Regions from separate parts of the Homo sapiens genome. Here regions 2 and 3 are each linked to region 1. The links come from fine-mapping of genetic effects on plasma protein levels. A gene starts in region 1. Each other region holds a variant in brackets. All regions are shown on one strand. Distances are from middle to middle.

Region 1 (8,183 bases):
CAGTAAGCTGAGATCGCACCACTGCACTCCAGCCTGGGCGACAGAGCAAGACTCTGTCTCGAAAAAAAAAAAAAGAAATAGGACTGGAGGAAGATGCTTTACATTATCAAGGGTGGTTGTCTCTGTTTGATGGATTCATAGGGATTTTTTCCTCCCTTCTACTTTTATTTTTTAAAAATTTTTATAGTGGACTTTTACCAGTTATATAATGAAGGAAAAATAAATAATTCTTTAAAATATTTCTGCTGCCATTAACGCTTCCCTGCATGTTACAGGTAGCAACGTGTACTCAGTATGTTTGGTGTCTCACAAGCATCCAGTTGAACACTGGAGCCATGGAGAGAGCTCAGTCTCACACCTAAGAAGGTACCCAGACAATTTTGGTGCTCTCAAAAAAGCTTTCTATAAGGGTTTATCAGTGAGCCTAAAACATAGAAAAAGATCATACAGATTTCAGCATAAGGAACTTCAGAATCAAAATGGAGTCACTAATATTAAAAAAACAAAACCAAAAACCTTTGACAAACAGACAGGGAAGGCCATGAAGAGAGGGTTCTCACGCTTGAATGCCTGATAACACAACTATCACAAAGGACTCTAAAAACCTACGCTCTTGCACAAAGGCCATCACAGCCTTACACAACAAAATACTTGTGCAAGGACATCTACCCAGGAACTCCCCATCCAACCTCACACTGACATCACCTTCGTTATTGATCTTTTTGCCAAAAATAATTATTTCAAAGGAATTATGTAATCCTCTTTACTTTTTCCTTTAAAAATCTTAGTGTTATTTCACCTCCCTGAATGTGCACATAGCTTGCCATGGCATGCGTATTTTCATTGCAATGCCCTATTTCCAAATATATATATCTTTTAGAGAGCCTCTCTGTGCTTATTATTAAGGCTGGTAGCCTTTACACATAAACCCTCCCTTCTTCACACAATGAGCTGGGAAATTATTAAAATGAGTAATTCACTATTGAAAAGCGTCATCAAAGAAAAAGACAGTCATATTGAACAAAGGACAACTCCCATGATGAAGGCGTGTCCAGCGGCCTGCACTCAGGGATGGCGCTTTTCGGTTTCATCTCACGTGTATGTCTCCTCTCCTTTCCACAAAGGTCTGGGGACAAGCACTGATCTTGAATCATTTCCACAGGTTCTCTGAATGTTGGTGAGACTGAGCTGAGCAGTACCTGCACAGTGTGCAGCTGTAATGAAGCACTTGCCCTGGAATCCTTCTTGCAAATTTCTGTTGATGCCCTCCCTGAGCTGTTGGTACAGAAACAACTTGAAACAGGTATTAACCTTCCTTACCAATGAAAGTTTAGTTACAAAGTCTCTTGCTCCAAAAAAGAGGTAGTTCTTTGCAACTTATGTTTCAAATAATTTCAGTGTCATTTTCTAAAGAAAGATTCTGCGCTAGGACAAGACAGCTTGGATGGTCTTTTCCAAGGGATTAACCGAGGAAAGTTTCCCCCAAATAAATCTCGGTGGAGCAGAGTTCCTGCCTCCCTGCCCTGCCCCACTTCTTCCCCAGTGGACCCCGCCTCCCTGAAACGGCCAGTGCACACTCGGGCCCCAGTCCTGCCCTCCTTTCTCAGTGGCTCTGGAGTGTGAGTGTGAAGCTGGTGACAGAACACGCAGCCCAGGCCAGTCCCTGCTCCTGGCGGACGGGCAAGCTTACCTGGGCCATCTGGGTTGCGGTGTTTCCCTTTGCCCCTAGGAGAACCATGGCCAGGGCAGAGGAGATGCTCACAGGAGAACAGAACACGTTGTGCGAAGGGTTATCTTGACACAGTATCTTTAAAAGGCGTATGGCAAAAGTACCACTTGCATTAGAAAGAGTTTCCATGATGCAGGGCCTGGAAGGGAAGAATAAAGAGAAATGCAGTTTCCACACTCCCTGAATGTTACTGACCTACTTACTACAGGGCAATTTTGGAATCGTACTTTTTGTTTTCTTCTTAAAGTTCGTAAGTATTTTAAATTGGAGAAAAATTTATTTTCTGTTAGTCTCCGGCCAAAAATTAAGTGCAAATGTTAAGGTAATTAGCTAAGTGTGGTGATGGCAGCAGCTCAAACCAGCAATAGCAACAGAACTGGCTCGCCTGCAGAGCTCGCTCTCTCACACACACACACACACACACACACAGAGCTGGAAGCAGTGAACTCCAATTCTTTCCGTAAGGACCAGATCGTCCCATCTGAGGAGGAGAATGGGGTCAGGGAGGAGGAGGAAAATGCTGTTCTTATTCTTGCATGCATTTACAAAGAGTCCTTGTGAGATTTTCAACTGGGCACCAGCCTGTGGCCTCCCTGACATTCAGCTGATACACAAAAGACACTGAGATGCTGAATCTGACCCAGAGACAGACAGCTGTGAGGCAAGGAGCTGTCATCCATAGAGGCAAGTGAGTGCGTCCTGGACAGCCGGGGTGGAGCCAGGCTGCTCCCAGTCAGCCAGCCTGCCCCAGGCCCACGCGGCCTGACATCCCAGTAACTCCATTCAGAGCTCCTGCCCATCACCAGCTTCTGCACATCATGTGACCCTTGAACACAGAGTGGGACTTGGACAATTGTGTGGTTTTGCTTCGTTTTGTTTTGTTTTTAATGTGCTTCCTAACTCAGAAACATCTATTTGGGAGCTTTACTCATTACTCCCAGCAAAAGCCATGAGTGTAGATTGTGCGTGAGAGGAAGGATCTGATCCCTGCAGAACGCCAGAATGGAAAGGCAAGAAACAGCCCAAGGTGAGGAGTAAAACAGGCGAGAACAAGGAGGTGGTGCCTGTGAAGCCACTGGAGACCAAAGTGTGAATGTGAGGGGGTGGGTCTCTTGGCCACAGGCCTGAAACCAAATGAACCCCCACCCCCAGGCTGCAGTTCCCAGTGCACTTGGAAATGAGACCCTGACTCCTCCAGGTGAGCCTGGGAGACCTCCCTGACTCCTTTCCATCTCCCCCTCCTCCCCCACACCCATCCCCAAGGCCTGCCCTCTACGCCCACATTTCTTCCCACTTCGGATTCTGTGCCTGGTCTAATGCCCAGGCCCCCTCCCGAGCCTCTGGTCTCCCTAGAGCCACTCCCCACTGTCGGGACACCTCATCTGTGCTCCCCAAAACGCCACGCAAAGCGCTGGAGAGCCTTGGACAATGAACACAACCCACTCCCCCAGCCACCCCCACGCCACAGCCACACGGCACCTCAGAAAGCGGTGTCTTAATCCTCTTGTCCTTCCTCCTAAATCTCCCAGGGGCCCTTAGGCCCCTCAAAGGTGGCCGCTCAAAGCCACCTTGTTAAAACGGTGTCTTACCCACCTGCCCCCTCCCTTGATCCAGACTCACTGAGGTCACAGCCTCCACCTCTGGCCATCCTGAACCCCTCCCAAAGTCAACTCTTCACAAACACTGTTGGTCCCCCTTAGAAGGCCCCATGTCCATCACGGCATTAATTCCACTCACCCTCAAACACCGCGGCCCGGAGGCTCTGATTCCCACCCTGGAGGAGGTTCTCTTGACCCCGCCGGCGCGACCCTCCCCAGCACGACCCTTCCTCCCGAAGGTGATTCCTCATCTTGCTGGTGGTCCCCACAGACCGCAGGCTCTGCAGGCGAGCGCTGAGCCTGGCTCTGCAGATTCTCAGGACCCCATTCGTTTAGCTGAATTATTGAAAGAATTAAGATGGATAAGAGTGCTCAGATTTGAAACTCCGAGACTGGTGGCTTTATTTTTTTGTTGTTGTTGGTGGTGGTTTTTTTGTGTTTTTCTTTTTTTTGTTTTGAGACGAAGTCTCACTCTGTCTGCCAGGCTGGAGTGCAGTGGCGCAATCCCAGCTCACTGCAACCTCTGCCTCCCGAGTTGAAGTGATTTTCCTGCCTCAGCACATAGCTGACATTATTACAGGCGTGGGCCACCATGCCCGGCTAATTTCTGTATTTTTAGTAGAGACCGGTTTTCACCACGTTTGCCAGACTGGTCTCGAACTCCTGATCTCCAAGGATCCGACCGCCTTGGCCTCCCAAAGTGCTGGGATTACAGGCGTGAGCCACTGCGCCCGGCCGAGACTGGTGACTGTAAAGGACAGTGAAGAAGCAGGACAGACGTCATCCTGCGGATCCCAGAGCAGAGAAGAGCAGTGAGAACACAGGGCCGGCAGGTGGGGAGGAGGCTGCAGGGGAGGGCTTCGGCCAGGGAAGGGCAGCGAGGAGACATCCGGGAGGGAGGCGTCCGCGGTGGCTGTGGGCCGCCAAGGCGGAGACCGGCTGCCGCTCCCAGGCACCCCCCAGAGACCGTTGCTGACCCCACCGAGAAGGCACCGCCTCCCCGGGGCTCTTGGCTGAGCGACCTCTCCTGTCCTCCGGTCCCATCACTCGGTGGCAGCCGGTGGACCTGAAGCTCGCCACTCCCGTCCCCTACCCCAGCCGTGCGCGGGGACGCCCTCACCTGCCACCTAGTCCAGCGCTGCCGCCGTCTCCGTGCCGCGCTCCGAGCCTGGACGCCGACCCCCGAGGCGCAGGACCCGGCCCTGCTGCTGCGCTCGCCGCGGACTCCCGCTAGGGCCTCTGCAGGCACCGCTTTTATACCGCAGGGTCGGGCGCCTCCCACGCTTTCTGCGTTTAGGCGGAGCCTGGCGGGACCAGCGGGGGCGCCGCGCGTGGTGGCCGAGGTCAGAGCTGGGAGCAGGGTCAGGTCAGGGTCCCCCCAGTCCGCCCCGCCCGGGGCGATGTCCGCCAATGCTCCCGCCAGCCTGAGGCCGGCCAGGTTCCCAAGGCGCGCGCTCGGCCTCACCCACCCCCGGCGCCAGGGCCTCTTCAGGACCGGGTTCAGAACCTGACAGCCCAGAGAAGTAGGTTGGGAGCCTGCGGCGTCCAGGGCCTCCGCGCGAAGAAACAAGGCGTCTGCGGGAAAGGAGACGGAGCCTGGAACCCTGGGCTTTTGTACTTAAGGAAGCGAAGGTCGGGTGACAGCCAAGCTCCGTGTTCCAGTGGGAAGGTCCCATGGGTCTGTGTTCCACGCCTCTTGTCATGAATATGGGGGATTCACTTAGAACCAAAGCATTTGTTCCAGGTCCCACCACTAACTAGTACTAGTCCTGGGCCCAGAACCAGGCGTCCTCACTCCTAGTACCCAAGCCCTTCTCTAGCCACAGGTGTTTGGGCTGCGGTGTGGTGTAAGCAGCCCCATTTTCCCGCAAAGTGATGGGAAGAGACACTGAGTCACACGGGCTCAGGACACTCCTTGTGTCCTCTATCAGGGGGTCCAGAGGCAGGGACTCGGGGGAGTTGATGCAGCAGTTCGTGATGTCATCAGATATCCCCCCACCCCCTTCCATCTCAGGCTGGACTCAATTGGAAGCATTTCATGTTGGCACGGTGACGTCCAGAGGAAGGGAACAGACAAATGGCTCTCTCTGGAGCACGGAGCGTCGCCCAGAAGCCGTGCCCTCCTGTTTCAAATTGACCAGAATTAGAGCTTTCTCCTGAGGGCCTGAATTAGGGAGAAGCAAGGCAGGTGCCTAAGGCACAAAATTTCAGGAGGGCCACACGCATAGGTGCCAACCCTGCATTTGCGCGGCCCTGAGAATCAGAGCCTCCTTCAATTTGACACCCTAGGTGCCTAGCTTGTTTTTAAAAATAAAACCTTTATTAAAAGACAATTCACGGACCATAATATGCATCCTTTTAAAGCATACAATTCAATAGTTCTTGGTATATTGACAAAGCTGTCCAACTCTCACCACTATCTAACTCCAGAAGGTTTTCATCACCCTAAAAGGAACTGTGATACCCATTAGCAATTATTCTCCATTTCCTCCTTCCCACAACCCCTGGCTTCTGGGAGAGGCTCCGACCTCCAGATTTCTTTTCTGGCCCTGCGGATTGACCGACTGTGAAGATTTCATGCAAATTGAATCATACAATATGTGGTCTTTCCTGACTGCCTTCTTTCACTTAGCATAATGTTTTCAAGGGTCATTCTTGATGGTTCCAGGTAGCATTTGTTAGTACTTTATTTCTTTTTATAACTGAATAATACTTATAAAAATATTATAAAATCAAAAGGGAAATTAGAATGTATTTTGAAATTAATAAAAAATGAAAATAAAAACATCAAAATTTGTAGGATGTTATTAAGTCAGCTTTGGGGAAATTTTGCAGCATGAAATGCCTATATTAGGAGAGGAGAAAGGCTTCAAATCAATGACCTCAGTTTCTACCTTCAAAAACTAGAAAAAGTATAAATACATTGAACACATAATCAGTAGAAAAGAAGAAATAATAAAGATTAGAGAATAAATCAATGATATAGAAAACTTTATAATGATAGAGACAATTGATTAAACAAAAAGCTGTTATTTATTTATCCACTTATTTATTTTTTTGAGGTGGAGTCTTGCTCTATCGCCTAGGCTGGAGAACAATGGCGTGATCTTGGCTCACTGCAACCTCCACCTCCCAATTCCAGCGATTCTCCTGCCTCAGCCTCCCAAGTAGCTGGGACTATAGGCATGCATCACCATACCCAGCTAATTTTTGTATTTTTAGTAGAGATGGGGTTTCACCATGTTGGCCAGGCTGGTCACGAACTCCTGACATCAGGTGATCCTCCCGCCTCAGCCTCCCAAAGTGCTGGGATTACAGGCGTGAACCACTGTGCCTGGCCATACCCATGAATTTTAAGGCAACAAATGGGGGCATCGTTGTCAGTGCCATTGCAAGAAAGTGTCTGAGTAAACGTGGACCATGATGGCATAGTGCAAACATGTTAGCTGCCTCTGTGCTCCGAGGCCTAGAGGAAACGTCCTTTCAATCCAAATCATGTGACCAGCGATGGAAAATGGGTTTAGGAAAGGATAAAAACACAGAACTATGAAAACAAGGTTATTTTAGCTTTTCCTTTCCTTTCTCCTCTTTCCCCCACTAAAAATTGTATGGGGGGGTGGGGCATGAAATCTGTTCAGAAATAGCTAAGAATCAAGAGATTTTGCAATTACCTATATTTTTCATTTAAAATCTCTTCTACTTTATTACTTTAAGAAAGTCACAACATATCACAAAAATATTTCTTTATCTGATTGCTCATCATGGTTTTCCCAGATAGAAAATACACAGGGCCCCAGAGGAAGCATTTTTCCAGGATTTTCCAACACTGTCCGGAGGAAGGGAGTCTTTGATCCTCACACCAGGTCCAAGGATTTTTCAAAAATCACTACTTCATGATCAGACAAGCCCAAGAGAAATGACAGAATCATGTTGCTGGCCTGAAAACCTGGCAAACGTGTAAGCAGACCTCCGTCACTGAGGACCCACCCAGCAGTAACTTCCTTCCTAGCTCCAAGTTCACTGCAAATAAAGTCCCTCACCACCAATGACCCAGCCGTTGTGCGTCTCTAGACTCTTCTGCATCTTTAGCAAAGGCCACATTTTCCAGCTCTACCTGTGGGCATTTGACACACTTCCTTAAAGTCCTGCAAAGAGCAAAATATGGAGCGTGGCCCTATTCATTCTGCAAAGGTTTCCACAACTTTGAAAACATTTCCCTGCCCCCAACATGTTCCTATCATGCTTGTGACACAGTCAGGTTCCATTCTAAGACTCATGCATTCAGTTAACAAAAAATAATTCGCTTCCTGCCATGGGCTTGGCTTGGCACTTGCTGGGAACTTGGTACCAAGTTGAAGACACAATATCTGGCCCAAGAGGGCAGCAGTCTGAGGGAGAGACGGCGAGCACACTGAGGTACTTCCAAGGTGCCCTGAACACCCCTAGAATGGCCCAGCCCAACACTTAAGCTCCACAGGGACTTTCCACTAAATCTTCTGTCTCCCACACCGGACTGCGAGCCTCAGGACAGCCTAACCCTCCTTTACTAATTTTTATATTAGCACACTGTACATTTGGCCACCGGTACCTCAGGTTCCACATCCACAGATTCAACCAACTGCAGATGGAAAAATTTTTTAAAAAATCAAAAAATAATACAAAATTTAAAACAATACAGTATAACGGCTATTTGTACAGCATTTACATTGTATTAGGTATTATACATAATCTAGAGATGATTTCAAGCGTATGGGAGGATGTTACACAGGTTACATTTGCATAGGTTATATGCAAACACTACGCCATGTTATATTAGGGACTTGAGGATCCGCAGAGCTCAATGTTCGCTAGGATCC
Region 2 (8,183 bases), 12 kb after region 1:
GATGGCAGCAGAATTGTGTGTATTCTCTACTCTTCTGTAGTTCCTCTTTTATTTTCCTTTTCATTGATTCTGAGTACTACTTACTAAAACGTGTTTTTTTCTCCAAAGTCTGTCAGCGATTCTAAGATATATTCACTTCAATGGGAAGTGACTGGAAGTCTTGGTGAACGTCGTTATCTTTGTTTAAACAAAGTGCCTGGTAATATTAAACAGCAATGCCAACTTCGAACATTGCCCTCTTACTTCCCCTAAAGAGGGACCTCCAAATGAATCTCTACACAAAAAATTAGGTAGGGTCCTATAACGAAATGCTTTAATTGTCTAGCGCAGGGTTTCTCAACTGACGTATTGCTGATGTGTGAAGCCAGATCATTCTTTGCACTGGGTGCTGTCCTGTGCAGTGCAGGACATTCAGCAGCATCCCTGGCCTCCACCCCCTCCATGCCAGGCACACCTACCCCTCAATGATGATAACCAAAAATGTCTCCAGACATTGCCAAATGTCCTCCAGGCCGGGGCACAGTTGCCCCCTAGGTGAGAACCATGGGTCTGGCAGATTTATTCATGCTAGGAAGCCTTGATAACAGGAGGAAAACAGAACAGAAAAAAAAAAAAAATGAGTCTTCAGGTTTAAATCTAACCTGGCCCCAGGGAACACAAGAAAGAGCAGACATAAAACTGAAAATGTTTCACCAGTAATTTTACAGAAGTTCTCCAGGTAACACTGTGATTTAAATGTCAAGCCACAGTGAAAATTAAGGTTGTTCCTCTATCACCGGCCCTTCCACCAGAAGCTGGAAGAAACAGCTGCAGGGGGATCTTCAGCTGAGGTCTGTGGATGCAGTTCGAGAGGTCAGCCAGACACCACTAATGTGACTTGCACAACATTGCACAGGTGGTAACACGCCGAGACACTTCCCCAGATCATCAAAGAAACCTGAGACTCAGAAAGGTTAAGGACTGCTTCCCTAAAGCAGTGCCCACTACCTCATTTGTACATATGGTTCCCATCATCCATTTTGGGGCAGTCAGAATATATTTGCCCTCTAAGCTCCAGAAGATATACATTCTCATTTGTGTTTTTTTCTTTTTTCACGTATTCATTATCATCCACTAAAAATAACCCATTTTATGGAAGGTTCATTTACAGCTGCAATTCTATTTTAAACACATTTAGCAAAAGTTTAAAACAAAAAATTGAAATTGTCTTTTTGTGGAATAGAATTGTAGCTTTACCTTATCAAAGATGCAATTTTGCTGTGATTTATGGATGCTTTTGTCTAGAGAAAATAACTTCATCACTTGATTTCTCCCACAAACACTACAGGAGATTCCCCATCCTGCACAGTTCACCTTTCTATCCATTTCTGCCATGTGCTATCATGAGGTCCTTCCTGCCACCTACAGGCCACCCCAGCTTTTACCGGCTGATGTGAAGGTATGAAAAGGCCCCTCTGTGGAAGCACAGGAGAAAAACATGCCATCATTCTCCCCATGTGATAGGTACATTTCCACCTGTCCCTATGAGCACCATGGCCATGGCAGAGGAGATGCTCAGGGGCAAGAAAAACATATTTCATGAGTTGCTCTCATCACCCTCCTCCTTAATAAACTGCTGGCAAAAGTGCCATCTGGGCAGGGCGCAGTGGCTCACGTCTGTAATCCCAGCACTTTGGGAGGCTGAGGCGGGTGGATCACTTGAGGTCAGGAGTTCGAGACCAGCCTGGCCAACATGGTGAAATCCTGTCTCTACTAAAAATACAAAAAATTAGCCAGGCGTGGTGGCACACACCTGTAATCCCAGCTACTCAGGACGCTAAGGCAGGAGAATCACTTGAATCCAGGAGGTGCAGGTTGCAGTGAGCCGAGATTGCACCACTGCACTCCAGCCTGGGTGAAAGAGTGAGACTGTCTCCAAAAAAAAAAAAAAAAAAAAAAAAAAAGTGCCATCTGCACCTGAATTCATCCACCAGGGAAGGTCTGGATCAGAAGCACATCAACCAAGCCCTCTATGGCCACCTAGTCGTCAGTCCCCAGTCAGTGAACACTGGGGTGTAGCCAGCAGAATAATGCCCCTTGCCAAAGATGTCTTACCTCCTAATCCCCAAAACCAGTGACTGTCTTACATGGCAAAAGAGATTTTGCCGATGTGGTCCCTCTAGTTAAGAATCTTGAGATGGGAGACGTGCTGGTTATCTGGTATTATGTTCATTTTAAATGTTATTGTAATCAGGTTCTTCTGGCCTGTGTGCTCAGATCAAAGCCAGGTTTCCCAATGACCCGGTAGCCAATTTGCAATGCTTAAATATGGTTTATTGCCAGAGACTCACACATACCCAATCAATCGAGCAAACATTCACAATACAATTATTTTTTTCATTGTTTCTTTTCCTGTGAGTGATGGGAATGACATGATACAATTACTAAAGGCAGTAATGAGCGGAATGGCAAACCCAGGCTGTGGCTGAGGAGGCCAGCACAGCAGACACTCCTCTCACACAGAGCCTCTGGGCAGCCCGTCTCACCGGGAGGAGGCACTTTTTTTTTTCTATTATAAGTTTTAGGGTACATGTGCACAACATGCAGGTTAGTTACATATGTATACATGTGCCATGTTGGTGTGCTGCACCCAGTAACTCGTCATTTAACATTAAGTATATCTCCTAATGCTATCCCTCCCCCCTCCCCCCACCCCACAACAGTCCCCAGAGTGTGATGTCTCCTACAGGCAGGAATTCTCAAGGTGCCTCTGACAGTGTCAGTTCCTTGCTGGTTTTATGGTTTTCCCCAGGTGTGTCCGTCATCATCATCTCAGCCACCTTTTGGCTCCATTTTCTATCGGTTCCTTTTGGGTCTCAAGTGGTACATGCCACAGCAAATGTAATCTCATCTCTTATACATATGTTTATCGCCTTAAAGAAAAACAACTTTACTATGAGCTCAGGCTCAGTCTAGTACACATACGCTTACCACTTTAAGGAGTAAACAACTTCACTGTGGGCTTCATGCCACTTGAAAACCAAAAAGTATCTGAGGCAAGTCTGGATCAATTTAGAGGTTTATTTTGCCAAGGTTAAGGGCATGCCGATGACACGGCCTCAGGAGGTCCTGAGAACAGGTGCCCAAGGTCAGGACACAGCTTGGTTTTATACATTTTAGGGAGACATGAGACATCAATCAATACGTGTAAGATGTACTTTGGTTTGGAAAGGCAGGACAACTGGAAGCAGGGGCTTCCAGGTCATAGGCAAACCCAGAGGTTTTCTGAATCAATAGAAAGGAATGTCTGGATGATGATAAGGGGTTGTGGACACCAAGCTTTTATCATGCAGGTGAAGCCTCCAGGTAGCAGGTGTGAGACATAATAAACCGTAAATGTTTCTTATCAGACTTAAAGAGTCTGCTCTATCAGTAATTCCAAAACGGAAGACTGCATAATGAGGCATGTCCGGCTCCCCTTCCCATCATGGCCTGAACTAGTTTGCAAGTTAGCTTTGGGCCTTTACCGAGAGGACGGGTCCATATAGAGGACTGAGGGCTTAGAATTTTATTTTTGGTTTACACACATAACACAAGCCACTCCATTTTTAGACATTAGGATCACAAATCATTCTTATAGATCATCTGGGTGGGCTCAGTGTGATCACAGGTCCTCATGAGAGAGGGAGGAGGGCCACAGCCAGAGGAGACGTGAGGACAGAGGCAGAGGTCAGGGTGATGCGGAGCCACAAGCCATGGAACACAGGCGGCCTCTAGGAGCTGGAAAAGGCCAGGAAGCAGATTCTCCCCGGAGCCTTGGGAGGAATCAACCCAGCTGACCCGTTTTGGAGTTCTGACTTCAGAGCTGTACGGTGTAAAGCTCGGTTGTTTTCAGCCATTTGAGGTTTGAGGTAATTTGTGATGGCAGCAATAGGAAACGAATACACTGGCTTAGTCACAGAGTAGCCAATATGGGGCCTCAGCAACAGGACTGCTGCAGGGCTCACAGGCACCCTCAGAGACCAGCTGGCTGTACCCGCCCCTAGTGCAAACAGGCAC[C/A]GCCCTAAGTTCTTTATGTGCCTCTCAGCTAACCCTCACTATCACACACCGAGGCCCTGCAGTAAGTACCCACCAAGATGAGGAGACTGAGTTTGTTCCCGATCTCCTAGGTGGTTGGTGTCAATGAAGTCAGGGTTGGAAACTGTGATTTGATTCCACAGCCTGCATCCTTGATCATTCCATAAAATCCCGATTGCTGCTAGCTCCTTCCCAATTTGGTGTCACTAATATAATTTGTAACCACTGTTCTGTGAATAAAGAATGTAATTCTCTGTAAATAAAAACTACATTTTTTTTTTTTTTTTTTGAGACAGCCTCACTCTGTCACCCAGGCTGGAGTGCAGTGGCGCAATCTCAGCTCACTGCAACCTCTGCCTCCCGGGCTCAAGTGATTCTCCTGCCTCAGCCTCCCAAGTAGCTGTGATTACAGGCATGCACCACCAGGCCCGGCTAATTTTTGTATCTTTAGTAGAGATGGGGTTTCAACATCTTGTTCGGGCTGGTTTTGGACTCCTGACCTCAGGTGATCCACCTGCCTCGGCCTCCCAAAGTGCTGGGATTACAGGTGTGAGCCACCGTGCCGGGCCAAAGCTACATTTCTAAAAAATAAAACTAAAAACTACATTTCTGTCACCATGTCATGTGAAACAGCTGGACAGATCTCACCAAATCTGAAGGGTCCATTTGAGATGTAAAATAAGGGCTATGTTGAAGAGACAGTTACTTTAAATCTGGGAGAGTCCACAGAGAGGTACCACTTCCCCCGGAGTTGCTGAAACTAGGCTAGGGAGCTGTCCAGGGCAGCCTTGGCATAGACATCAAATATGAAGCCCAAATCCCACGTGGAAACTTGAGTTGGAGGTGTTGATTTGGGGCCAGTCGACACATCACTTGGGGCAGGTCCAGGAGGTATGCTTCCATGTGAGAGTGGCTGGATCACCCATGTGCACCCTGGAAGGTAGAAGGAAAAGATGTGCCTGAGAGAAACTTTATTACTAAATCAAAAGTTACTACAGGTTACTATCAGTTATTATAATTTTAGCAAATTTTTATAAGTCCAACATTAATTATTTCTTTTTTTCCTAGACAAAGGCTTGCTCTGTCACCTAGACTGGACTGCAGTGGCACGATCTCGGCTCACTGCAACCTCTGCCTTCCAAGTTCAAGCAATTCTCCTGCCTCAGCCTCCCGAGTAGCTGGGACCACAGACCTGCACCACCACACCCAGCTAATTTTTGTATTTTTGGTAGAGGTGGGGTTTCGCCATGATGCCCAGGCTGGTCTCGAACTCCTGACCTCAAGTGATCCACCTGCCTTGACCTCCCAAAGTGCTAGGATTACAGGCGTGAGCCACCACACCTGGCCTAATTATATCTTTCTATTAAGCCTTACCTAATAATAGTAGAGTAGGATTCTCTTTGGCTGGGTCACTATTCAATAAAATATTAAAGTTCATCCATGTGCCTCTGTTTCCCAAAGTCTCTTTGCTGTTACTATTGAGGACATTTTAGGAAATGAAGAGACAAATCATCCACAATCCAATAACCCTGCAAGCTATTTTTCTATATTATGTTATCCTCTCTTTTATCATATGCATGTATATTTTGCTCACATTTTTTAAAGCCACATAAGAAATGTATGTTTCCATTTGGAAAATTAGAAAATATGCAAAGCAAGAATTACAGAAAACTCTATGCAGAGATAAGGATCATCATGCATGTGCTGACTTTTATAAACAGGGTATCATCCCCTGATCTTGCTTCTTCCACATCACCAGTGGACTGCAGTGCCTCACCCTGCAGTTGTGAGGCTATACTCCCTTAAGCCTTAGCAGGGGTCTTCTGAGTCTCTCAGGGGCACGATGGGAAGGAAAAGGAGCTGAGTGGATGAGGCGGGAGATGGGAGACAATTATTTCAAAGAGTGCACCTCCACTGTCAGATGTTTTGTTTTAGCTTTCTGCTAAAATATTTTTTAAAAGGGAGTGCCTCACACTTAAAAAAGGCGTGAAGGCCATTTTTACATACAGAACAACAAACAGGCCAATCAGTGCAAATTCTTTTACATTTCAATGAGTGAAAATGTCAGCCAAGAAAATGCCATCTAGTGATATTTGCACAACAGTACCCTACACATAATAGGTCATGATTCTAGAACAAAATGTGAAAGTTCATCCATTGTCCTCAAATAATCAAGCCTCTGGGGAGCCTTCCAGGGCAGCAGCTGCTAGAAGGTTGGTGTCTGTAGTGTCTCCAGCACAGCAGGGTCTGGTCTGTGTCCAGGCTGCTTCTGCCATGCTCAATCTCACCTTACTCTTGAAGGAAATAAAAGGCTAGGAAGCCAGAAGAAATACTCACACTGAGGGCACTGGCCCACCAGGGATGGCATTAGCAAAAGAGACTCAATGAGGATGAGAAAACAGAGATGACAGAGACCCAAATAACATTTGAATTGGACTCTACCTGCAAGTGGAGCTTTACCATCCAGGTGAGGCAGTCATAAACCTAGGCTGGAGTGTGTGTGTGTGTATAATCATCCTGTCGGAACAGGCAAAGGAATGAACTGGAGTACCCATCAATGTTGACTCTCCATTAAACTGCTCTTAATTCCTTACAATCACGTACTTCTGGCCTCTCCTGTCTTCCCTCTTCCTCCCTCTCACTTCCTCACCTCTTTCCTTTCCAGCCTGTAGGTACTGGTCATTATCTACCCCATAGCAATGACACACACACATGCACACACTCACACACAAGTGTGCCTTGGGGGTGTGTCCCAGCTCACACTGATGGTTAGGCTGACGCTGGAAGGAGACAACAGGGCGACTCTCTTCTCCGCCCCCTCAGGTTCTTCTTGGTACTCCACTCCCATTTGCACATTAAAGATTGTAAGAGAGTTGGAACTTTGGACATGGATGGACCTCTCCCAGTAAATCTAGAAGGCATTCATTCCAACAGCATACAAAACAATACTGGTGGGTGCCCACGCCACAACACTATGGCACCATAAATATACTGCTATAGGAAAAGTTTGATTTCCAGCCATTGAACTTGACATTGAAATTCCAGCCTGGGTGCAGTAGGGTGAGCCTGTAGTCCCAGCTACTCTGGAGACTGAGGCAGGAAGAGCACTTGAGTCCAGGAGTTCAAATCCAGTCTGAGCAGTATAATGAGACCCCCTTCTCTAAAAAACAAATAAATACATACATTGGCATCAAACTAGTTTCCTTTTTACACATAAAAAAGCAAGGTGGCTGCACTCCTCTCTCCCCACACACGCTCCTGCTGATGAGTTTATTCCAAGAGCACCGATGCAGACCTTCCCTTCCATTTTTGTGGGGAAAGAAAATGATCTGGAACTCACGCCAGAGGGGAGGGCACATACAGGAATTTGCTGTTGCGGGTCAGCCACATGTTCACCCATAGCAGGAAGAGCCAGCTTTGGGGGAGCCAGGGTCTGCTGTTTCCTGTCAGAGGGGCAGTGGCGAGACCCTCGGGAAGCCCCAAACTTCCCAGGAACCCTCTTGGCAGGGCAGCCGGTTTCAGGCATCTGAACTCTATCTGCCGTCTGGAGAGTCATGAGTGCTTTTAAACAAATGTAGGATGCAATTACTTTGGAGTTTTAGGGAAACCATATGGATGGCCGTCTGATGTGGAAAAGCTAGGGCGCCTGTCGGCAGTCCACGGCCATAGAACTGCAGCTGCCAGGATGCAGCTGGAGAATTAGGACATGAGCTGCTGCCATGACTAGCACAGGTCAGGGGGCGGGCAGAGGTGAGAACTGCTCTGAGAGGCTCCAGCAACATTTATACCCAAGGAAGCCCAGTGGGAGTGGGGGTGTTCCACTGGAGGCACGTGGGACATCCCAACCGCCCCTGTAAGCAAAGACAGCCCAGGATATTCAAATATAAATATAGGTAGTGTCACAGGAGTTGAAACCAGAGCAACTCCATCTTGAACAGGGGATGGGTAAAATGAGGCTGGGACCTACAGGGCTGCATTCCCAGGAATTTAGGCCTTCTCAGAAGGCCAGCACAAGATACATGCCACCAAGACCCGCTGATAAAACAGGATGCAGGGCCCAGGGCAGTGGGTCACACCTGTAATCCCCAAACTTTGGGAGACCAAGGCAGGTAGATCGCTTGAGCCCA
Region 3 (8,183 bases), 160 kb before region 1:
CTTGTTGAATAAGAATAAATAAGGCATTTGACCCAGCCATCCCATTACTGGGTATATACCCAAAGGATTATAAATCATGCTGCTATAAAGACACATGCACACGTATGTTTACTGTGGCACTATTCACAATAGCAAAGACTTGGAACCAACCCAAATGTCCAACAATGATAGACTGGATTAAGAAAATGTGGCACATATACACCATGGAATACTATGCAGCCATAAAAAATGATGAGTTCATGTCCTTTGTAGGGACATGGATGAAATTGGAAATCATCATTCTCAGTAAACTATCGCAAGGACAAAAAACCGAACACCGCATGTTCTCACTCATAGATGGGAATTGAACAATGAGAACACGTGGACACAGGAAGGGGAACATCACACTCTGGGGACTGTTGTGGGGTGGGGGGAGGGGGGAGGGATAGCATTAGGAGATATACCTAATGCTAAATGACGAGTTAATGGGTGCAGCACACCAGCATGGCACATGTATACATATGTAACAAACCTGCACATTGTGCACATGTACCCTAAAACTTAAAGTATAATAATAAAAATAAATAAATAAGGCATTTATACACAGGTGTAGGGATAGATTGTCTAACTCCCCTAGAGAAATTTTTTTAACTGCATGCATTGTCAATGGGGCAATAGCACCCCAAAGGAATGAAAATTGGTTCTTCTGGGGGCATGTGAAGAAAATCTTACTCTTTTTACGTATAAAGCACAGAGGTACAAACAATGCATCAACAGCTATGCAGTATACATGTGGTATTAAAATTTAATGGGAGGAGTCAACTAAGGGGAAAAAACCCTAAAAAGTCTAGGAGGGGGTGGATGATAATGAAAACAAGGCTGAGAAACACCGCCATAAACCCACCTTCAGACAGGAACAATGATTCAGACTGTTTTCCATAGTGCTTTCTAAACTGTTGTATATTGTTTTAAAAATAATTTATCATATGCTAATTGATAAGAGAGTCAAATATGTGCAAAGAGCTGTCTTCCCCAAAATGAATACCCTCTCTTGAAAAGTGCTAAAATTCTTAGAATAGGAATTATTTGTCTTCTTCCAGAATTCTGCTACGCTTCTGACTGAATTCCATTCCTGGAATAGCTATGGTGTTACATGAAATGCATTATCAGGCGACAGCTCAAAGGAGAAAGCAGAGAAGGCTATGCTCAGAAGGGCTGATCACTGCAGGTGCTGTGTTTGCAATCGATTTCTTAGTAAGAGTAGAAGCACTTTTGCTTCTGTTTTATTTTCTTTTCATAAGTCATATAAGAAGTAGGAGAAGGAAGAGATACGGACATTATTTTTAGCTCTCACAAACAAAAACAGATCACTAACTTTAATATGCACAGGGAATCCCTGCCCGTGAGGTTCCCCAAAAGTTGGTGCAAGTGTTTGAAATGTGCCACATGCCACTATTATTACCTCAACTGCCCCTAAGACCAGGGCCCTGGGCAAAGATTCAGCCAGGGCATGCATTCCATTTACTTTGGCAAGCGTCACTCCCAGGTTGGAAACATTCGAACAAAATGAATCTGTCTTAGATAAAGGTGATTTTACTACCTGCACGTCCTCAAGAGCAGGAGTCTGCCAGTGGCCTCCCCGGGTCATCACGAACCGGATCAAGCACCAGAGAACTGAAGACGAGAGAAGGCACACGCTACCTACAACCCAGACGTCTTTTCTTCTGAGTGTGAAGTCCATTCTTTGGGAGCAGCTGTGGATGTTGCTTGGCTTATATGTTCCTTCCCTGCCCTGATCTAGCACCAGCACTTCTCAAGCAGTGTCACCCTTTGCTCTGCCCTGAGGAGTGGGTGTCACCGAATTACAGAGGGTTCTTGCAGAGTCCTGCACTGGACGTCTCCAGTTACGTGATCAGCAAATAATCTGCCTCTTTAAAAGGAAAAATACGATGGCCTTGTGTGACAGATCTGAAACAGGTGTAGGGGCATTGGGAGACTGCTGGCAATAATTTACGACGCTGTGAATGCGTATTTGTTCCCAGTTCAAGGACAATTAGCACCACTGTATCTGGCAACTGCTGGCTGCCGAGGCTGGGCCACTGCCAGGGAGCTTTCTCCTGCCCTTACAGGGTGAGGAGCACAGGGATGGAGGTGGCGAAATGCAACTTGAAAAATCACAAAACCTCTGCCCTCAGCCTTGTTATTTTGAGATCTAAGTTATAGTCATTACGGATGGTGCTGATGGTACAATTTCACAGCAGATGGTCAGGAAATGCCACCTGGTGTTAAATCCACCAACTGCAATCAAAATAGGAAAATCCACACTTTACTCCAACCCACTGTCCCTCTGCACATCCTGTTAATAAATATTTTGCTTTGCTTGGTCTTGGGAGCATTTGTACCGGGCATTTAAACACTCCAGGGACAGTGGGGTCCCGAGTCTGCTGGGGCCATGCTTGTTTCTACCCCCACAGCTTTGGGATACCCCCTGGTTGGGATATGGAAGAACTTAAGCCAGGTTTTAAAAAGGAATTATTCCCTATGAAGGAAGGCTTTCAAACACAAATCAACAAGGGTTAGGATAAATTCAGAAATGATTTGCTTAGGGGTCTTCCAGGCGCGGATGTGGAACGGTGGGCTATGCTGACATATTTTTGTAGAGTGAGCATTCACAACCTGTGTCCTACTTTTATACTTGGGACCATGCCTTTTGGATGGAGGATGAGTAACTAGGGGTGAACAGGCAGGTGGGGAAAACCAACGGAGGAGGAGGAGAGCACAGACAACCCCGGGCCTCAGGAGCAGGGATGGGGGTGGTACACCGAGGAAAGCAGTGAGAAGCACGCAGGGCCGAATGGTTGGCTGAGAATATCACCAGGCACATTTGTGTTTCATTAAGCAAAGGGGTGTGGGGGTGTATATGAGACAGAGATCCTACTAAATATTCAAGTAAATCTGGGGGAAATACAACACGAGGGCTATTTACTATATAGATAACAGAGAACTGACAAAAGAAAAAAAACCCAGATTCAACTGTACAAAAATAATACTAATTATAGTTATGAAACCTGTTCATCATTTATAACTTAATGGTATGGACACAGTAGCTATCGAGCTCATCACTCATATGAGTCAGACCAATTTGGTCTTGTAAATTTTACTTGATTTCAACACCACACCGTGTACGTATGTTTAGATCTAGTTTATTATGGCATATGGTTATCTGCTGAAAACTTTTAAAATTTTACACAGTAGGTAGAATTTAGGTGATTTTGAACAGCCTTTGGAACATAATAGAATAAGAAAAGTCATTAGAAAACAGAATAAAAAGGAAAGTAGGAAAAATAGGCCACACACAGCAGCTCATGCCTGTAATTCCAGCACTCTGGGAGGCCAAGGTGGGAGGATCACTTCAGCACAGGAGTTCAAGACCAGTCTGAGCAACACATGGAGACCCCTGTCTCTACAAAAAAATACAGAAAGTAGCCATGGGTGGTGGTGCATGCCTAGTCCCAGCTACTTGGGAGGCTGAGGCAGGAGAATCACTTGAGCCAGGGAGGTCAAAGCTGCAGTGAGCTGAGATCACACCACTGCAATCCAGCCTGGGCGACAGAGTGAGAAGCTGTCTCAAAAAAAAAAAAAGAAACAAACAAACAAGAAAAATTAAAAGAACAAGGCCGGGCACGGTGGCTCACGCCTGTAATCTCAGCACTTTGGGAGGCCAAGGCAGGTGGATCATGAGGTCAGGAGTTTGAGACCAGCCTGACCAATGTGGTGAAACCCCGTCTCTACTAAAAATACAAAAAAAAATATAAAAAAAAATGAGTCAGGCGTGGTTGCGTGCGCCTGTAATCCCGGCTACTCAGGAGGCTAAGGCAGGAGAATTGCTTCAACCTGGGAGACGGAGGTTGCAGTGAGCTGAGATCGCACCACTGCACTCCAGCCTGGGTGACAGAGCAAGACTCCGTCTCAAAAAAAGAAAAAAAGAAAAAAAGAAAGAAAGAAAAATTAAAAGAACAAGAACTACTTAAGTAGAAGGAAGAAAAGAAGGCTATGAAGTGTTTCATAAACTCAGTAAAACATAGAGGAAAGAAGGAAGATGGCTAAAAATGAATTCAGTAGAAGAAAAATAAAAGAAATAGAAAAATCTGATTAAGAGCAGGAAAACAAAAAGAATCTGAGTTTTATCAAACTATTTTAACAAATATAAGTTGTTAAATCTATATAAAATTCTTCCCCTATTGGGACTGGAGAGTAGTTCCAGACTCTAAAGAAACTGCACTGCAAGCTTCCAGAACAAAGCTTTCATGTCACCAGAGTCTGAAATTCAGAGTACATTCTTTCCAGTGCACCACAGGGGATGTTTCTACTATGATTAGCCGTGCTAATCCCCTCAAAGAGAGAAGGGATGAGAGAGAAAGGGGAATAGGTGGAGAAAATCGACAAGCATGTTTTTATAGTCCCTGGAGAGAAAAGCGTGGCATTTTAAAGATTTACTGCTGCCCCAGCAGAAGATGAAGACGTGTTAATCTAGCTCTGTCTGCATACCTGAAGACATCTGAGCTGCTGGAATGTCCTTCTCCACCCACCCGCTGCCAAGCCTGCTGGCTGCCCTGGCACCCACCAACTAGGCAGGCAGGGGCTCCAGGCCATGGAAAGGAGAACTCTGTGCCTCTGACACATGCACCTATCCATTCTCCACGTGGACGGAGAGAGACAGGGAAATTTATTGCAGACATCTCTAGGCCCTTCTCCATTTACAAGTAAGAAATTGAATGGGACACATGGAGCTCCTAGTGATTCCTTCCCACCTTCCACAGGGTGTCAACTGCAGGACGGAAGCCAGGAGGCCCAAGTTACAGAAGGGATATGAGACTTACTATAAAGGACATTCTCTGATGGTTTCTAGGGGTTAAATAGCAGTCTCAATTTTTCCCTCAAAAACACCCTAAAAATATTTAACTTCCAAATCATCAACTTCTGGATGTAGTTGGCTGCACAAAAGTAACATCCCTACATATATTTATGTTCCAACTTAGCACTATCGCACTCTTTTTTTTTATCTTCAGAAACAGGGTCTTCCTCTGTTGCCCACGCTGGAGTGCAGTGGTGTGATCATAGCTCACTGCATCCTTGAACTCCCGGGCTCAAGCAATCCTCCTGCCTCAGCCTCCCAAGTAGCTGGGACTACAGATGTGTGCCACCATGCCCGCTATTTTATTTGTATTTTTTTATTTTTGTAGAAATAGACATCTCACCATGTCACCTGGGCTGGTCTCAAACTCCTGGCCTCCAGTGATTCTCTTGCCCCAGCCTCCCAAAGTGCTGGGATTACAGGTATGAGCCATGTGTCCTGCTTATCTCACTCTTTAGAGTGTTGCCCATTTATAAAAATTGTATCATAGATTTTGGAGAAAAACAGTACTTGAAAGATAATGAAATTCATATAAACTATTACAGTTAGTTGATGATTTCAAAGTTCTCCAAGAAGAATATTTTGTCTTCTCTGTCCTACCGAAATTAATAAACAGAAAAAATTATCCTGTTTGTACCACTGAAAACCCTAATGAGAAAGTCATGTCTCACTTAATTTTGCCTGTAGATATTTCTCCTTGGTCTATATTGAACTCATGGGGAAAGCAGAGGTCTCAAAAAAATGTTTCAATCTGATTCATTTATTCTCTCCAGCACATTTTGTCATTTCTTATTCACTTACAATAAAAAGCCTCCTAGACCTTTTATATACAATCTCTCTATTTCATTGTCTATTGCATTGTTAGAAACGCCCTTCCTACCTGAATAGTGTTTTTTAGAACAGTAGCTGGGCAAAGAAGGATGTTTTCCAAACCTGCCTGATAAGAATCACTTGCTCTGATTATCAAAAATAATGGTTCCCAGCCCTCAACCAGAATTCACTTAAATAGATCTGTGCATTCCAAAAACACTTTTGGTGCCTATTTGTTTCCGTTACTAGGAAAGCAACTGAGGAAACATGAACAAATAACACGAGGTTTCCCAACCTTAAGGAGCCTTGTCTAGAGAAAGGTGATCAACATGTTCAAAACCACCACATGTGCTGGAATGAAGGCACGGGCAAAATGCTTGATGCTCCCACCGGGCAAGGAGCCAACGGATGATGGGCAGGAACTGACTGGGCCAAGGCAGGGGAGGTAATTGCTGCTGCCGCTAACACATATTAAATGCTGACTCTAGTGACAGATACTAGGCGGAGTGCTTTACAGACGTGATCACACTTAATTTTCACAATTGCTATTATCTCACTAATTCAGATGTGGCAAGCCCTTGGTTAAATTAATATTTTTCCCAAGAACGAGCAGCTGGAATGGGGCTCAGAACTCTCGTTCTGCACAGAGGAGGGTACAAGCCCCACCGTCGTGCCATCAGCAAGTCTTTCTTGTCCCTTCTCTGGACTTCACTATCAACAGCTCTGCTGTCTAC[C/T]GCGTGAGGAACTCAAGATCTGAAGGAAAAAGGAGAAACTTCTTTCTGCAGAACAGTGTGCCTCTCAGAGCCCTTTTCTGAATTTCAAGCCCAAATCCATCATGCTAAAGGATTCTTCTTCATTTCTGCAAGCTGGCTGTATAACTCCTAAGCCACTAACTAAAAGTGAAGTCGACTGCTGGCAGAAATGCAGTTTCAAAGGCCTCCTAATTATTTACCAAACACAATTGTATAGTCGACACACACAATTCTCACTGAAGCAAAGTGGAATGATGCCTATTCATAAACTTTCCTTAATTGTACTCACAAGCGGCTCCATGACATTAGAAAAGATAAGATAGAATGAATACTTTTTAGGAGACTAAATTAGAACATGATTACCTCATTATGTCCAGATCTTGAATCCTGGTCCCCAGAATTTTTTTCCAGAAAACACTTCACTTTCTCCACCTCTTCCCTGCACTGAAAAAAGGCCATTTTCTCCAGCTGGTTGCTGTTATAACACGTGTTGAATTCTTCCAGCCTCTTCACTTTTAACATCTTAGTAGTGAGTCCGATTAAGCTACTTTCTGGAGTGTGGTTTTCGTCTCCCTCTGTCTCCGATTTATAAATCAGGACACAATTATGACTCTTCAGTGCTTCTTTCTCTTGACTGCAAAGAAAGGAAACACAAAAAGTTCTCATCACGTATTCATGCATTTGACTTCTTGAGAAAATGACCAGTGAGAATTTGGAAGTCCCTTCTGTTTAAACTGGAGAGAGGATCCAAAATCAGGAAAAGAAATACTAACATTCATATTGAGTTTCCAACATTGGAACTTTAAAAGGAAAAAAAATTTTTTCACTTTAAAACTACAAAAGCAAACAGTAAGAAGCAATGTCAAGATTCACTGGTGATGAAATATGCTCCTTATTGCACAAAACAAGCCGTAGATCAAGTGGCCAGCTTGGATGTAAATTATAAAGTATCTTTGGGTTTAATTGGAACCGCAGGTTTTGCAGCCCCGTGGGAAGGGCTTATCACAGAAGGGGTCTCTCTGCTTCCCCTGGCCTCCCTCTGCAGAGGGATCGCTCCCGAATGAGTCCTTTTCCAGAACTCTTCTCTACCTATGCCTTAAAATGTGTGGTGTTTATTTGTGAAAAGAAATTTATTTCCTTACAGTCTTCTCACGTGGACAGCACTCCCAGATACCTTTCCTTGCATCTGCATTAACAGCTATGTACCGAGAAGTTCAGAGTCTTTTCACTCTCCTTAAAATACTTTCCTCGCAAATGAAGTAATGCAGCATACATAATTCGCTTTGATACTAGAGACATATACGCATGTCTATATGTACACATCACTTGATTGCATAGAGAGGCAGGGAGAGGGAGAGACATTTGAATTTGTGCTAGTTCCGCATGGCTGACAACTGAGGCCCCCTGGTGGAGATTTTCCGAAAAGCGCCTCTTCGAGCATTTTCTCCGCTTAAAAACCGTATTGTGATTCTCATCAGAAAACTTAATATTTTGTTTTGTCAGTTCCTATAGTAAAATGATACTCTTGAGTTCCAAAGTGTTTAAAATTCACTGCTCTAACAAATTATACTTATCCACATAAAGAGCTTACATTCAAACAAATAAAAATGCAAATATTAATACTATCAACCAGAGCTCTACAGATATATTACAGATCATTCTTAGCATTCTTTCAAATTGCCCTGAAAAAATTATTAAAATAAGGAAACAAATGCATGGCTATTTCT

Alleles and levels. Alleles are on the strand shown, and positions count from the first base shown. The strength of an association depends on the size of the effect and on how common the allele is. Not every link is listed here.
In carriers of allele C in region 3, the plasma level of the protein whose gene starts at base 4,556 in region 1 tends to be lower than with T alone (weak association).

What was found. PIP is the chance, under the fine-mapping model, that this variant and not a neighbour inherited with it causes the effect. The UK Biobank Pharma Proteomics Project read protein levels with antibody pairs (Olink). The fine-mapping took linkage between variants from a reference panel, not from the people measured, so its PIPs are less certain.
Region 2: its variant is fine-mapped to the plasma level of the SERPINB9 protein (UK Biobank, PIP 0.98).
Region 3: its variant is fine-mapped to the plasma level of the SERPINB9 protein (UK Biobank, PIP above 0.99).

The regions. Positions count from the first base shown.
Region 1 is chr6:2,898,754-2,906,936 of GRCh38, forward strand. SERPINB9 (serpin family B member 9) reads right to left here and starts at 4,556. Exons shown (of 7, transcript NM_004155.6): 1 at 4,448-4,556; 2 at 1,691-1,868. The coding sequence starts at 1,858. It overlaps SERPINB9-AS1 (SERPINB9 antisense RNA 1), which reads left to right. Exons shown (of 5, transcript NR_110841.1): 3 at 276-366; 4 at 1,163-1,303; 5 at 1,730-1,923. RefSeq lists an enhancer at 4,020-4,521 and silencers at 4,232-4,281, 4,522-4,601, 4,702-4,751.
Region 2 is chr6:2,910,483-2,918,665 of GRCh38, forward strand. No RefSeq gene overlaps it. Among named protein-coding and RNA genes, the nearest start is that of SERPINB9, 11 kb to the left of the region's middle. RefSeq lists an enhancer at 5,900-6,442. The variant C/A (reference allele first, on the strand shown) is at 4,039.
Region 3 is chr6:2,742,317-2,750,499 of GRCh38, forward strand. MYLK4 (myosin light chain kinase family member 4) reads right to left here. Exons shown (of 13, transcript NM_001012418.5): 2 at 6,820-7,090. The coding sequence starts at 6,978. Among named protein-coding and RNA genes, the nearest start is that of MYLK4, 4.5 kb to the right of the region's middle. The variant C/T (reference allele first, on the strand shown) is at 6,439.